2 separate regions of the Homo sapiens genome follow, and region 2 is linked to region 1. Evidence: fine-mapped expression QTL. Tissue or cell type: blood mononuclear cells. Region 1 holds a variant in brackets; the other region holds the start of a gene. All regions are shown on one strand. Distances are between the middles of the regions.

The links. PIP is the estimated chance that this variant, and not a neighbour inherited with it, causes the effect.
Region 2: ARHGAP29 starts here. The variant in region 1 is fine-mapped to the expression of ARHGAP29 in blood mononuclear cells (TOPMed, PIP 0.97).

The regions. Positions count from the first base shown.
Region 1 is chr1:94,103,197-94,111,219 of GRCh38, reverse strand. ABCA4 (ATP binding cassette subfamily A member 4) reads left to right here. Exons shown (of 50, transcript NM_000350.3): 4 at 2,504-2,643. Among named protein-coding and RNA genes, the nearest start is that of ABCA4, 14 kb to the left of the region's middle. RefSeq lists enhancers at 3,716-4,215, 4,216-4,717. The variant T/C (reference allele first, on the strand shown) is at 4,901.
Region 2 is chr1:94,234,076-94,242,208 of GRCh38, reverse strand. ARHGAP29 (Rho GTPase activating protein 29) reads left to right here and starts at 4,625. Exons shown (of 23, transcript NM_004815.4): 1 at 4,625-4,794. RefSeq lists silencers at 4,422-4,651, 4,662-4,901.

The DNA of each region.
Region 1 (8,023 bases):
AATTTCTTGGTCCTTATATCCCCAGAATGTGACCTGGAGTCTGATGGCAGCCCGCTGCAGAGATGTGTCCACTGCCTTCTGGTCATTGACCTGCTTGGGTGGAGTGAATCATTGTAGGAGAAAAACTCAGTTCCCTCACCCTGATCAACCTGGACAGATCTCTCTTCCTTTAAAAGCTTTCTTGGACATCTAAGGGCTAGGAAAAATGTCAGGGAGCATTGGGAAGGTAAATGAAGTCAGGTTTACAAAGTCAAGTTTACTTCTTGGGAGAAAAATACAATTTCCAAATCCTCTGTTATAATTGCCATCGGCCCCCTGGAGTGGTGAGATCTCGGAATATGGCTCGGGTGCAGTGGCTCTTCACTGTGGGCCTGCAGGCTATTCTGAAAAGCTGATGAAAACCAATGACCCCTCTTCCAAGAAAAATGGCCACATACCAAACATTACACTGTACATCTGATTTCAGGGAATTGTAGATGCCAGGTTAGTAGCCTCAGGTCTAGGGTCAAAATTCAAGTCGAATCCCACAGGAAGAGGGTCTGCCTTCGGAATTCCCTTTCAGAGCATTGGGAGAACATCATGGGAGCATATTCTAGAGACAGAGGCTTAGGGTGTGGACAGGGCCATCCCTCACCCACTGTGCTGACCTTAAGCAGCACCTTGTGCAGCCCATACCTGAAGGCCACCAGCAAAGGCCTGTTGGGGAGCAGGCTTTACCCGACCTGTATAAACACCAGGCTAGGTGAAAACTGAGATACCTGGTTACTTTAGTTTTTTCCTTGGGGGAGCTCAGTATGATTCTTCCAGGAGAAGCCTGCTTTTAGACTAAAAAGAAAAAAAGTTTGATAGGTCAACCTAATGATTGGAGGTGGCCTTCCCCACTGTGAACAAACTATGGCTGCATGTGCCCTACAATGGCAGAGTTGAGTAGTTGTGATAGAGACTGTATGATCTGTAAGCCTGTAATTTTTATGTTTGCTGACCCCTGGATTACCAGATGATAGAAGAGGAAACATCTGTCTTCCTAGCAAAGTCAAGGAAGTGGCATTTAGCAGGACTCATATTGCTGCAAGCACTGCCTTGCAGTTTTAGTTTACAACTGCACTTTCAGCTTAAGAAACACCTGCCCATCCAGAGAGATCGTGTGGGGTCACATGGTGGGATCAGGGAGGCCTGAAGACAGCTCAGTGGAGGCTGCATGGAGCTTTGGTGGGAACGGCCCTGGCAGTGTCTATAGATGTTATTGCGGAAAACTGAGGGGTGGGAGTTGGAGAAGGGGGCTCCAGACTCTAGCTGTACTTGGCATTTGAACCCGGAAAGTTGGGTTTCATGTTTTGCACTCACATTATGAGTGAAATATTGGCTTATTCAAGGTTCTTTTGCTTGCAAGGCACGGAAACCCATTCAAGCAATCTTAAACCCCAGAAGGAAATCTATGATTTGGATACTAGACATTCTCACAGAGCCAAGGGCAGCAAGGCGGGGCTCAGGAGAGGCAGGCCAAGACCTGGAGAGCTGTCAGGAGCTGCTTCCTCAACTCTCTTCCATCTGGGCCTGCCAGCCCTGGCCTCTGTATCTACTCCATTCACCTCTCTCCATGGACCAGTCTCCCCTGCTCCTCAATGCCTGGGCTGCCATTGTTCATGCAATTCACAATACCTCGGCCTGGGCAATCAGAAGCTCATCTCTGAACACCATCCAAATTCCTGGGAACAAATCGGGTTGACCCAGCTTTATTCTCCCTGTCCCATCAGCCTTGGCAGAGGCGTGCATGTGCATGCGTGCCAATGTGTGTGTGCAGGGAGGTCCTTGTGGATGAAGCATGGCTGTCAGAGCCTACCTGCGTGAATGGGTGGAAGGGCAGGTCTCAGAGAATTGGGTAAAAACTGGATAAACCCTCCAGTGATATCCACCAATGTCACCCTGTTTAAGGCTTCTCTGGGCAAGAGACACACAGAGCATGGGACCGAGAGGCGAGCAGACCCTGCCAAAACTGGGAGACTGAATAGATCGCTCACCATCCTTGTCAGTTAGCCTATATGTACAAGGAAGTAAAATTATCTCTTTCTCCTGCCTTGGCAGTATTGTAAGGATACTCAATGTAGTAGCTAGGCCAGACACATAGTATCTTTAAATATAGCATGAGATGGCCAAGCACGGTGGCTCATGCCTGTAATCCCAGCACTTTGGGAGGCTGAGGCGGGTGGATCACGAGGTCAGGAGATCGAGACCATCCTGGCTAACACGATGAAGCCCCGTCTCTACTAAAAATATAAAAAATTAGCTGGGTGTGGTGGCGGGCGCCTGTAGTCCCAGCTACTCGGGAGGCTGAGGCAGGAGAATAGCGTGAACCCGGGGGGCAGAGCTTGCAGTGAGCCGAGATCACGCCACTGCACTCCAGCCTGGGTGACAGAGCGAGATAAAAAAAAAAAATAGCATGAGATATTATTACTGTTATAAAAATAACAGCTATTTCCTTATTAATGAGGCTTTGTCCTTACAGCTTGGCAAGGGTATATCGAGATTTTCAAGAACTCCTCATGAATGCACCAGAGAGCCAGCACCTTGGCCGTATTTGGACAGAGCTACACATCTTGTCCCAATTCATGGACACCCTCCGGACTCACCCGGAGAGAATTGCAGGTAAGCATGACTGCAGTGCTCTCAAGCATCATTTCCCTCACCTATGGAGAGACTGAAGATATAGGAAAGAACAGGGAGAGTTGGTGAAAAATATACTAGCGGAGGCAGGAAGGGATGGGGTCTGGAGGCGGCTTGAACATCACCTTGGTGAAGATGCCTCTTCCTCCACAGAAGCCTGGAAGGTAGGAAGTTGGGAAGGAAGGCAGGAAAGGTCTCATCCACGTTAAGTCTAGAGACAGAAAGAATGCTAAGAGAGATGGCACTATGGGAAGTATGAGGCTAGGTCAAGGGCTAGAAGCAGGGGAGACGAGTTTACAGAGTTTCGTAAAGATATAGAGCAACTCTCACAGAGTTCTAGAGCGAGAGCTAACCAGGAACATGAAGCAGCAAGGCCAACTATCATTAAGGAGCCAGGGAGGTCAGAGATCATGTATTATCATGACATAAATATGCATAATTGTACTATTTCTCCCAGTAATATTTAGCACCCAGGCCCCGAGGCAGAGCAAGTGGAGAGTGGGTGATGCAGGGCTGGGGGTGTGTATGGAGGCACCACAGAAGGTCAACAGGCAGCGGGCTGAAGGCAGGGACTGGACTACATGCATCAAGTCCAGGCTGCACGAGGAAGGATGAGAAGGCAGATGAGCACGGAAATGGACTGGGGGAAATGAAGAGGCAAGGGAATAGAAGTCTCAGTGGGTGCCATGACCCTGTTTAAGTGATTGAGAAAATGAACAAGATGAAAAGGTTAATGGCTGTGGTCAGAAAGTGAAATATGTGAATTCAGGATTTCGAAGGTAGGGTGGGTGATGACTGGCCCCCAGATGCGGCCATGGTGAAGTGGGGCAAAGGTGCAGGTGCATGGTGAGGGGAAGGAGGAAATGGGAGGTGATGATGTTGGCCCCACACGGACACCACGGTTGTGCAGGAAGATGGCAGGAGCTGGGCACCAGGGTGGGAGCCACCTGGAGTCAGGAAGAGTGAAGAGAAAGGATGAAGAGGCTCCCTCTCCTGTGTCTCTCCTCCCCAGGAGAAGAACAAGAAACAATCCGAAAGTAATAACACCAATGTGCCTTTACAAAGTGTGAGTGGGTGTTGTGTGCTGTCACGTGTGTAGTAGGCTCCTCTGTGGATGGCTAGAGGGACTGGACATGGCCACTGGATCCCACTTGCAAGAGCAGAGGAAAAGAGTGGTCGTGAGGAAGTAAAGCCCCCCAAAATCCAGGGGTTGCTGCAGCTTTGGGTGTGGAGCGTGCCCTCTGAGGAAAGGCTGCTCTGGGGGAGATTGCCCAGGAAACGGGGCTCAGAGGCCACGAAAGCAGCTGTTAGGGGCTTCTGGGAGATGTGTGCTCCTAGGATTAGGGAGTTGACTCTAAGGATGACCTTAGAGGTTAACAGGGATGAGAAAGGGGTCACCAAGGGGTCTACCAGGGGAATGGGAGAGGCTGTATTGATAGAACAGCTTCTGCTGCAGGTTCCAAACAAGAAATGTGGGAGAATGGTTGAAATCAGCCCCGGGGGCACCTTCCCGTGCATGCGTGCAGCTCCTTCAACATTCAGTCGACCTTCAGTGCCTCCTGTGAGCCAGGCACTGGGCTAGTCTCTGGGGGTGGAGAGATGAGTCAGGCAAATGCCAGCCCTCAGAGGGCTCACAGGGCAGAAGGTGAGAGATGAGTGAGCAGAAAATGACCACAGCGCGTGTGGGGCCCAGTGGAGGGAAGGAGGGGATTCAGGAGCACAGGAGAGTCAACAGGGGAAACTTCTCCGAGGAGAATCTGATCCTCCTCCCATCTGGCCACCTTCTGAAGCCCTCTCTCCCCATCCAAGTGAGAAAGGACAGGCGTATGACCAGATTGGTGTATGAAGATGCTGAATTACGTTCTCATTGTTTCAAACTAGTAAACCATAGATTTTATGTAGTAACTTCTACAAACTGCATTACAAACACTCCATTCTTTGTTGCCCTGGGTAGAAGTTTATTTTAGTGAGCCCAAGTTTGAGGAACCTTATATGGTATGAGTACAATTACCATTTTAATAGTAAGAAATCCCCCTTCCCCTGTGTACCAACCAGAAGGTGTTTTTTTCCTAATTTAAACAAACAGATGCAGACGTGGGCTGTCCAGCTCCTGGCGGGATGACATACCTCATGCATCCAGTGGGTTTGATGATGAGGCAGACATTTCACTTAAGTGCCTGATCATCAGATTGAGTCCTGCTGGGAGGAAGTGTGAAGGAAGTAATTTCAAACCACAGTT[T/C]CTCTGTGGCTTTTACAATGTGGATATGAGAACCAAAATCACTACTTCTTAACCCCAGAGCAGGACTGATTTTGAATTGGTATGCAGGCGGTTCCTTCTGCAGGCTTCGGGCTGTGAGAAGTCCCTAACAGAGCAAATCTGGGGACAAGGGCTCAGGAAAGGTTGGCCACGGCCCCCTAGGAATGGGGGCTCTGCAAGATCCCTGGCCTTAGAGGCTGTGAGAGGGAACAGGGGTCCATCCCCAAGTAAGGGACACGGTCTTTGAGGAAATCCCAGGCCAGGGCCTGAAGGGCACTGTCAGGAACACAGGCTGTTTCAGTCTGTTGAGATTCACCGGGGCGCTGCTCACTGTGAGCACGGACTCCTCAGGCCAATGTGGCAGAAGAGCCCACCTTTGAAAGCGAGCGGGTGGGGGTGGCGGGGCTGGTGCTGGTGCGTGCTTCTGCACAGCCACCTGGGAAGGTATGCCGCTGGTTGACCCAGGCAGAGGTTTTCTTTCATGGCAAACCTGCAGTACTGCATTCTCAGCAGGGAGGATTAATGGTAAAAGACCAGGCATGGAGCCCCCTTCCCTCTCCCTCGAAGCAAGCTCTGTGGTCTCTCAATCATCTTTAAAACACCTTCTTCCCGGGAGCCTCCTACATTCTCCTGGCTTCCCTCCCACCCCCACCCTCAGCTCCTGGGGCCTCAGCAGCCCCACCCCCAAGCCTCTAATCTTCCCAGGGAAGGGAACAAGAAGAACCACATTTTAAACGAAATTTATTTTTCTTTCCTCAGGCTCCCAGTTCACATTTCTCCCTCAGGAGTCTAGGGAAGCTTCTGTCTGGTATCGGCCTCCTCTTCACCTGGGCCCCCGCCCTCCTCAGGTGTACCAGAAGCCAGCACACTCCCCCTTCCCCCCCAGAGCCACAGCAGCCCTGTCTCCTGGGTGGTCTTGTGTGCCAAGCCTGGGCAACATCACTCCCAGCTTTTCTTGTTTTGCCCCTTCTCCCCAGCAAGATATTTGTATGTAAGGTCAGGTGAGTGAGTTAAAGAATAACGAAGAGATAAACAGTCAAATGGAGTCCTGACTGTCAGGTCAAGACAACAGTTATTTACTGAATGCCTCATGTCATTCAACAGACATTTATTGAGACTCTGATTGGATGTCAGTCTTTAATGCTGGGTGTCAGAGAGAGGTGACTTCAAGGGCTTGCATCTGTGCACCCAGCATTGCTAGGTACAATGAGGAGTATAATAAAAGCAGGAGCCATAGCCCCCAACTCTCAAGAGATCTCCCATGTGTGTATGTCTGCATATGCGTGCGTGTGCATGTGTGCGCATGTGTGCATGTGTGTGTGCATGTGTGTGCATGCGTGTGTGTGTGCGTGTGTTGGGGATGGTGTTGGTGGAGTGAGAGTGTACAAGGCTGTGTATGAAGGGGTAATTGGGAAAAGAACAATGGAGCTGGCACCCAGGGACAGGAGGAAAAGCAGGAGGGCTGGGTTTGGAAGACAGCCGGATTTATGTTTTTGAAGAGGGAAGACTAGAATATAAGGGAGCAGCCCTTCTCAGAGCCCTCCTCCTCCCTTCGGGCCCTGTGTCCAGCTTTCCCCAAAGTCCTTGGATCTTTCCTATGCAAAGGGGAGTGACAGTGGGCACCACTCTCAGGGAACCCATTACTGTGAGAGAAGCCACTGTGCCACTGTGTGGTCGAACTTCAAGACCGGCTTCCCCTGCCCCAGCTGCATGGACAGGCCTGTGGGGTTGGCGCAAGACCCTTCCAGAGGAAACTAGCTGCAACATAAATCCGGATATGGTGCTGTTCAGGGAAAGGCACAACCTGGGGATGAGAAGGGTGGCTGTCCAGCACACAGGGGCAGGCCTCTTGGCCACTGGGGGAGGGGAGAATTTGGAGAGGAAGAGGATGGGATGCCGTGGAATTGGGACCAGGAAAGAATGGGGACATGTGATGGTTAAAGCTAGTTAGAGAAGAACTGGGAGATAAACAGTCACCCATGCCCCTGAAGCACTCGGGGTGAAGAGATTGGCATTTTCACGCACCCCAGTGCTTTCCCTTTGTGTTGAAGTCCCTTCGTAGACATCCAGGCCCATAAGGCTCTTCTCTGGCCAGAGCCTCATGAACTATAGCACTAGCAGGGTTGAGGCCAAGCATTGGCCCTGGAAGCCAGCCGAGGAGGAGGGTGCTTGTGTGAATCTCCCAGGAGGGGTAAGAATTATATTAATTCGATCATAATAAGCATTTATTGAGTGCTGTTTTGAGGCCTGGGAGCTAAGCACTTCACATTCCTTACCCCGCATCAACAATCCTATGAGGTAGATGTGGAAAATGCAGACACGGGGACAGGCTCAATCACTTGCCCCAAGGTCACCTTAACTGTTAGGTGTTCTTTATGCCTCCTTATAAAGAAACCCTGCTTCCCACAGGTGTTGAGAGGAGCTGGAGGGAGCTTGACTAGGGCTCATCAGGCAAGCCCCGGCATGTGCCTGGCTCTCCTCTTTCTACCTGGAGCTTTTCCTGCCCTTAATGGCCCCAACTCATTTCTCTTAGTCCATGTCAGTGCCCTGAGCATCTCAGCCCAAGCTGAGATGATAGAAACACCCAGAGGGGTCCTCTACCCTGTGACAGCTGCGGTGTGGGAAGAGCACGTGTCTCCTCCAATCCTAGACCAGAGTTTCTCAGCCTCAGCATCACTGACACTTGGGGCTAGATAATCCTTTGTGTGGGGGAGGGAGGAGTGTCTTGGGCCTTGCAGGATGTTTAGCAGCATCTCTGGCCTCTACCCACCAGCACCTCCCCAGTTGTGACACCCAGAAATGTCTTTAGATCTTGCCAAATATTTCCAGGAGGATGAAATTCCCCTGTTTCAGTTCCCCAGCCCCACCTCAATGAGAAGCACTGTCCTAGACCAACCCCACAAAGCATCTGACACCCCCATCCAGCCCTGGCTAACTTTTTCCACCTTCTTACTAAATTGGGCCCAGCTGCTTCAGCAGTCAATGTGTTGGGGGCAGCCCACTGGCAAGAGCCTCACCTCTAGGGGCTCCCAGAGACCCCAAGAACAGAACCTTCCTCTGAGAGTTGAGTTACAAGTGTTTCCAATCGACTCTGGCTGTTTTCCT
Region 2 (8,133 bases), 130 kb before region 1:
CAGCCCTGTGGGAAACCTGGGAATCGTCCATCTATAGCTTTCTGGAAATTATTTGCCAATCCTTGTTGTGTTTTGCTGTATACATGTGCATCTTGGTGTTCAGCAAGATAATTAAGAAATTCCCTATGCAAATTTCTGGAGCTCTTTCTTTTTCTACATCCTTAGTCTCTGGTACTCTGTCCTACAGATTCTGGCAACTCCAATCTCCTGGAACCATGATCTCTGTCTCTTCAAGTTGTCAAGGGTGCTATGGTCAAGAATGTGACTTTAGGCAGAAAGTTGGGGTAATTGTGGGGCTTACCTCATTTGTTTATGATCCCATCTCTCAGAGATGACAGCCCTGAGCCCAGTGCGGTGTGTAGTTCGGTGTCTGAAAACAATATATATTTTGTCCATTTTTCTAGTTGTTTACTACAGGGAAGAGTATGTCTGTTTTTATTTATTCCTCCATTTGATTTTATATATATATATATAAATATATATTATATATAAATTATATATCATATATAATTACATATATAAATTATATATATCATATATAATTATATATATAAGATATATATATAATTATATATAAAATTACTATTTTTTGAGACGGAGTTTTGCTCTTGTTGCCCAAGCTGGAGTGCAGTGGTGTGATCTTGGCTCACTGCAACCTCTACCTCCCAGGTTCAAGCGATTCTACTGCCTTAGCCTCCCGAGTAGCTGGGATTACATGTGCACGCCACCACGCCCGGCTAATTTTTTGTATTTTTAGTAGAAATGGGGTTTCACCATATTAGCCAAGCTGGTCTCAAACTCCTGACCTCAGGTGATCCGCCCGCCTCGGCCTCCCAACGTGCTGGGATTACAGGCGTGAGCCACCGCACCTGGCTGCATTTGATATATCTTTTAAGGATAATCTAGAGATTTTTCTTTCCATCTTTTTTCCTGCAGTTTATTTGTTGAAGAAATCACGTTTATGCTATAAAATGGCCCACAGTCCAGATTTTTCTGGGTATATACTGTGGCATAATTTAACAAGTTCTTAGGTCTTATAGTTTTTTATAAAGTGGTAATTGGATATAGAACAGGGTGTTTCACCTTGACACTATTGACCTTTTGGGCAGGATAATTCTTTCTTGGGGATGAGGGTAGTCCTATGCATGTAGGAAGTTTAGCAGTATCCCTGTCCTCTGCCCACTAGATGTCAGTAGAATCCCCCTCCCCAGTTATGACAACAAAAAATGTCTCCAGATATTGTCAAATGTTTTTAGACCCATGTTCTGCTATGAAAAGTAGGCTACCTAAACTACAGAATTGTCTTCAGGAAGATGAAGTAAAATTAACAGTACTGGTAATGTCACCACTGCAGATAGAAAGAATACTAATCTGTGCAGTCTGGTACCACAAACATTTTGAAGAGAACACATGAGGAAGATTTGGGGAATATAAAAGTTAAGGCTGCACCGAATGGCTGACTTGAACAGTGTCATAGAGGATGTGAATTTCTGTTTGAGAAGGAAAAAATACTAGAGGCAATAGTAATATAAATGGTAAAAACACAAGTATTTAAAAAAAATTATATGTTGCTTCCAGAAATGTTTTTCTGCAACTTGTTGAAAAACTTAAGCTATTGGACTGCTATGGTAGATATACTGATGGTTTTACTCTTTTTTTCTGAACACTACAATTTTATTATAGACCAAGAATTTCGGACTTGCAGAAAGGTATTATTGCATCTATTAATGTGCTTTTCATATTTAAAGTGTATTTGTGTGATAAATTACTTCAAACAAAATCAAGTCAGGGGAGATTAATAAAATAACCCTTTTAAATTAAAAGTAAACTACCATTTTTGCAAATATTTCCAAATGTCATCATCCTCTGGATGAAGGATGGCAGATAATGTATTTTTTTAAAGGTTTAAGAGGAGGATTGAGATTGAGAGACTTCTCAAAATTTCCCTTAGACAACCTTACTTATAGTTTATTTAACCTTCTAAGTAACATTCCTCGATTCCCAAATAGCCAACTATTGTGACTCTGTGTCAGATCCTATGCACAGTAGTTGGTTGTTTTGGGATGGTTTAGGGGTAGTTCTGGTTTAGGGGGTGTTGAGAATAACCCAGAGCAGCTATGAGGGACAGACTTTGCTTCCTTGAGCTCCCTGAGAGTTGTCCAACCCCACTCTCCTTGGCCTTCAGAATTCTTTCTTCATCCCCCACTGATGTCCTTCAGTTTTGAGTCATCACTGGGTGAGTGTCCATGGTGCATCATTCTCCAGTGGGGTTTGAAGGAGTCTTTGTTTTTTAGGTGTCTTCAGTACTGCTTGTCATATTAGTACTGTTAGGTTTGAGGTGTAATGGAAAAAATTTTAAAAATTAAGTCTGAAAAATAATTGTGGAAGCAGGTAATCAAGGAGCCTTGGATTCTTATGTTTGTATTTTTAAGGTAAAACCTCAGAGCCTAATTGGCTTCATTTCCCCCAGAACTGTTTGCATGTGAGAAATGACCCTCTTTCCTTTCTCTATCGGTGGGTAGTCTCTATCACCTCTGTTTGTCTCTTTTATCTTCCTTATCTCTCTCCATCTCATTTTCTTTCTCTGCTTCCCCTTATCTCTGCATATTTCTTTCTTCTTTCCCTCTTGTCTTTCTTTCTCCTTTATTGTTGTCTCTCTTTCCTTCTCACATATTTGTCTCTCCCTTTGTCTCTCTTTCCCTGCTTTTCTCTCCTCCTTGTGAGCTCCTTTCTCTTTGTCACACCCCCACCTCCATCCATACACCCTCTCTCTCCATCAGGAACTTGTTCATGATTTTGTCAGTGATGCTTCCAGTTCCATTTTAGTCAGCAACACAGTCCTCTTTATTAAGGGAAATGGTGTATAAGTGCAAAATAATATATTTTAAAATAGACTTAAGAGGGTGTTTGAGGTTGAGGGACTTCCTCAAAAATTTCCTTCCAAAAACCTTACTTATGATTGAATCGTAGTTGCACTGTTCAGCCTCCCCTTGGCCTGGGGACTCCTTTGTCTCCTCTTATTAGTTTGCTTCAGTTCAGGCATCATTGGCTTCCATGGTGAGAGTCCTTGGCGCATTTTTCTTTTTCAGCACGATTAGAAGGAATTTTGGTTTTTGAGGTTTCCTATTTGTGGCAGGACCTTGTTACTATTATTTTGGGGATTTGAGGGGAAAATCTGTGTAAGTTGAGTCCAAAAAATCCAGTATGGTGCCAAAGTAACCAAGGAGCTGAGTTTTCTTATTTATCTTTTCTAAGTAGCACCTGAGGAGCCAAATTTGTTGTATTTTCTTAGCATTGTTTTTCCTGTAAGGGTTCAAAGATATGTCTATGTAAGATGTCCCTCTTCTCTTTCTTTGTCAATGAGTTTTTCTCTTGCCCCGCTACCCTACTTTTGGTTCTGTCATGCTCACTTACTTTTCTGTTTGTTAAGTGGGTAGTCTCTCCTTTTATTTTTCTTCCTTATTTTCTCTTTTTGCCTTCACTTATTTCTGCCTTCCTTGGTTTTCTTCCCTTTTCCTGTGTCTGCACCTCATTTTCTTTCCAGTTTTCCTCAGCACATTCTCCTGTGTCTTTTTCTGTTTCTCCCGTGTGTGGTCATTTTTCTCGCAGACCCCAGCGCTACCCACAGTCTCCCTCCCTGTGTTTTTTCCTCTGTTTCTCTATGAGTTCTTTCTGAATGTTCCAGCACTGAGGTAAGTGCCATCGCTTGTTCCAGCGAGTGGTGTGATATAGGGACTATGTGCTTTCTAGCCCTGCTTGCTATAATTATTCCATCTTTCTCAGACTTTTTTTTTTCTTCTCATTATGAAGTGAGTTTGAAAGTGCAGCTAAGAAAGAAAGGACCGGGCACAGTGGCTCATGCTTGTAATCCCAGTACTTTGGGAGGCTGAGGCGGGTGGATCACCTGAGGTCGGGAGGTCGGGAATTCGAGACCAGCTTGGCCAACATAGCGAAACCCTGCCTCTACTAAAAATACTAAAATTAGCTTGGCGTGGTAATGGGTGCCTATAATCGCAGCTACTCAGGTGGCTGAGGTGGGAGAATCAATTGAGCCCGGGAGGCGGAGGTTGCAGTGAGCCGAGATCACGCCATTAGACTCGTCTGGGCGACAGAGCGAGACTCCGTCTCCAAAAAAAAAAAAAAAAAAAAAAAAAATACAGATAGGCCTAAGTGGAAACTATTACCCTCCATAGAGGGCAGAGGGGCAGAGTAGATGGCTGGTTTTGAGGTAGTTCATTCTTCATTCAGACGTGTGGCGCCCTTCCCCAGGCCCTAACCCCTGGAAGAGGGAGGAAAAAGGCGATCCACAGAAGTGTCTCATAAGAAATGTAGCTGCTCATCTGGCCATTAGCCGCATCTAGTCCTCAGGTGACTTTTCTCTGAGTCGCTCTGCCTGTCCCCTGCAAGCCAAAAGGGCAGCCGACGCAGCCCGTGATGCTGGGACAGCGTCCGGCCGCGCGCAACTGACGGTCGCGTTCTGCGCGCGAGCTAGTTGCCTCCCGTACCTGCCGCGGTCGCCGGCCCCGCCCCCGGGAGCGCGGGCCAATGGGCTGGGCTCCAGGGGGCGGGGCTGGCGGGCGGGCGGTGCGGCCGTGGCGGTAGCTGCAGGGGCGGTGGCGGCTGCAGTGGTGGTGGTGCCTGTGGCTGTGGCTGCGGCTGCGGCTGCGGCTGAGATTTGGCCGGGCGTCCGCAGGCCGTGGGGGATGGGGGCAGCGAGCTCCAGCCCTCGGCGGTGGCGGCGGCCGTAGGTGTGGGGCGGGCGTCCGCGTCCGGCACGCGAGATGGAGCGCCGTGGTGAGTGTGAGGAGGTGGCGCTTGCTCCGGCCGCGGCGGTCGTGGCTCCGGGCTGGGGTTGCCCGCGCGAGCGCCCGCGAATTGCCGTCCAGGGTCCGGGAGGCCCGCGGGGCGGCCCCGAGTGGAAGCGGTGGCAGGCTGCGCTAGGGACGGGTGTCCTCGAGCCAGGACTGGAGTCCACGGGAAGGGTCCGGCCGGGGCTAGGGGCGCGCCCGGCGAGGGAGGCGCGGACGAGCTGGGGAGGACGCCAGCGGTGGCCGGGAGCAGACGGTGACGATCGTAATTAAAGTTAGCACACAGCGCGTACAACGGGTCCGCCTGCTGTTCTGAAGCCTTTGCACATTTTAACTCTTTTAATGTTCAGAACACTCCATGATTGTTCGACTCGGTTCACACGGGGAAACCGAGGTTAAAAACCTGCCCAAGCACACAGACTAGTGGTTGGCAGCGTCAGGACCTAAACCCAGGCGCTTTTGCTCCGGAATCCGTGCTCCTGATCACTATGGGTCTGTGTTCTTGCCTGGATTCTATTCCCGCTCCCACCTGCCCTGACTGCAGCCCTCACTCCAGTTGGGCTCTCATTCCTGAGATATTTTAGGATTTCCGTGGTGCATTTTCTCCTGGTCTGTGTTTTTTGGGTTTCGTTGAGAGTTTTCCTCAGTCTCAGAGGTTTGTCCCAGTTCAATTGTGGACGTGTTTTGGGGTTTGACAGTTTTAATTAAAAAAAAAAATTTTTTGGGGGGCGGGTGAGCTGGAGTTGGACGTTTCAAGGTGGAACCCTCGTGACTGACGAGCCTCTTGTCTCTATGTTTATCTTTTTAAAACTTTCTCAGAGGGTATTGGCCCCAAATGTTTTCGGAGGGCAGGATATTACCTGCTAATGGCAGGAGCTGAGCTCTCCTTCCCTTCTCTCCATCTGTCTCTGTGACTGTATCTCTTGTCTATAGTTTATCTTTTGTCCGTCGTTACCACCGTCGGCTGTCCATTTTGGTTGCTCCATTCTTCCCTCTTTGTTTAAATTCTTGGATGAGGAACTTGCTCTTTGGCAAAGAGTAGTTTTGGCTGGTCAAAGGAGAGTACTGCCTGCCAGGAATGCTAGACATTCTGGAGGGGTGGGATGCTGGGCAGCTTCCTCTTTTTAAAGCGTGCTAGGTTCAAACTGTACAGAAATGAAGTGCATGTGTATTGCATGCCTTCCTTTAAAAATTGTTTGCATAGTATTGATAAAACTCTTTCTCACATGTCCCTATTCTGTTTTTGTGGAGAGTGCTTTTTAAAACCATAAAGATTTAATCATCGTTTTAGGATGAGCTCATCTAATCTTTTTAGCATCTCAAAGTAGATTCTTGCCAAATCTGAAATTGTGCTGAAATAGCAGATTTCTGAAATATCTGGCAATTTTTCCTCAAGAAGAAATGGTAGAATGGGAAATAGTAAGTATAGATGTTTGGGGGCAGTTTTACACTTCAATTAGAGAGCCTAAAATGAAACTACTGCCGTAATGTGCATTTGGCAGGGGGCATGCGTGGGGCAGCGGACATTTGATTGACACAGGCTCCTGCAGTCGTGGGGGATAGGAAGTTTGTGTCTACATTTCTAATGCACACAACACTTAGATTTACAACATACAATGGAAGTGGTTTTGCACGGTAATTTTCTACTTGCTAGAGAATTCTTTGAGAAGTGGATAATACATGTTTTTAATATTGTTGGTTTGAAGTTGAAAGAGATGCACCAGAATTAGTGTGTCAAAAATATTTTGCACAAGTCTATTTGCACAGTTCAAATTTCACTTGGAAGCTTTTTAGTAGGTTTCCACAGAGTCAGTTAAGTTTCTACAATTGTTTCCAGTCCTGTATTTCTTGCTCACAATCCACTTATGTATTGTAGTGAAGCCACATCTTGTTCAAAAACAATTTCCCACAATAAAGCACTGCTAGTAATAATGACTTTTCTTTATGGTTCATCTTTATGATGAACCAGGCACTCTGCTAAGTACTTTGCATGCGTCATTACCTAATTAAGTTGCCAGTTGCAGTCTGTTAGTAACTAAGTTTTATGTTACTTCCAACAAGAGAATATTCATTTTCGCGCATGAGAAAGTAGTGTATATGATCTTGGAAAGTGTGTATTGTTCCAGCTTCTCATTATCATAGTTCATTTATGAAAGCTTGGGTTAAGTTTGTTATTTTAAACGTTTTTTCAATTGTAATGTTTCCTTTTTTTACTCTGGAATATGAAAAGTAGTAATATATAACAAAATCAGCACATTAATCATTATAATGCTGGCTAGAGATAGGGTATAATCCTTTTTTATAAGAGGAAAAGAGTTCCTCTTCTCCTTGCCATGTGTTTGATGTTGTTGTTGCTGTGTTTGTTTTTTGCAGATTTTTTAAGTCTTGTCTAAAAATGTTCCAGCAGTTTTGAAACACTTTGAAAGTTTGGGTTACTATTTTACATGTAGTTACTTAAAGTAAATTATTTCTGCTAAAATAGGTAAATTGTTTTAATGTCTTTAATTTTTGTAACCATCTTTACCAGTGACAGTGACCAATTCTCTAATTTACCAAGTTTAAAAGCTGTCATAACTAAACAGAATGACGTTATTAAGTAAACTGCAAGAGTGATGTTTGGTTAGGCTAATAGGCATTTTGGTTAGTGATTTGTAAAAGAGCTGCCCAAAAAAGACACTTTGAATTTTTGTTTTGTTTTTGTTGATGGGAAGGAAGACTTAGATATAATAATAATGCTCAAAAATTGCCCTAGATTCATTTTAGAAATGATGTATGCATATAAGGATTAATGTTAGATAGGTTTGAAACTAGTTTAAATGTAGAAGTTAGATTCTCAGAAATAATTTGAGATTGACAAAAGGACAGTGAATAAACAAACTTTAAAAATTATAAAGTGTGGTCCCCAGTTTAATAATCAGGAGGAGCAATAATAGAAATCCAACTTTGATTTCAGTTTTATGTAATCTTCCCTCAGCTTCATATACTTTTCTTTTTGAAACATACCATTTTAGAGAGTTTTTTAAAAATTTATATTTTCACTTCAAAACATTGCAACAACCCAGAGTTATTTTTGTTTCTATAAAAATTAATTGAAACTTTATAAGTTTATAAGCCTATCTGCAGATAGTTCTAAGTAGTTCATTCCTCATACGCCAAGCATTGTGCTATGATCAGAGAACACATGGTTAGCAAATAGACATACATGGTCTTGATTTCCATGAGATTATACTCTAGCTAGGAAGACATGATCTATTTGAACTGTGGTATGAGCAGTGATGAAAAGTAGAGGATACTATGGAACATCTCACAGGAGATTCTACTCTGG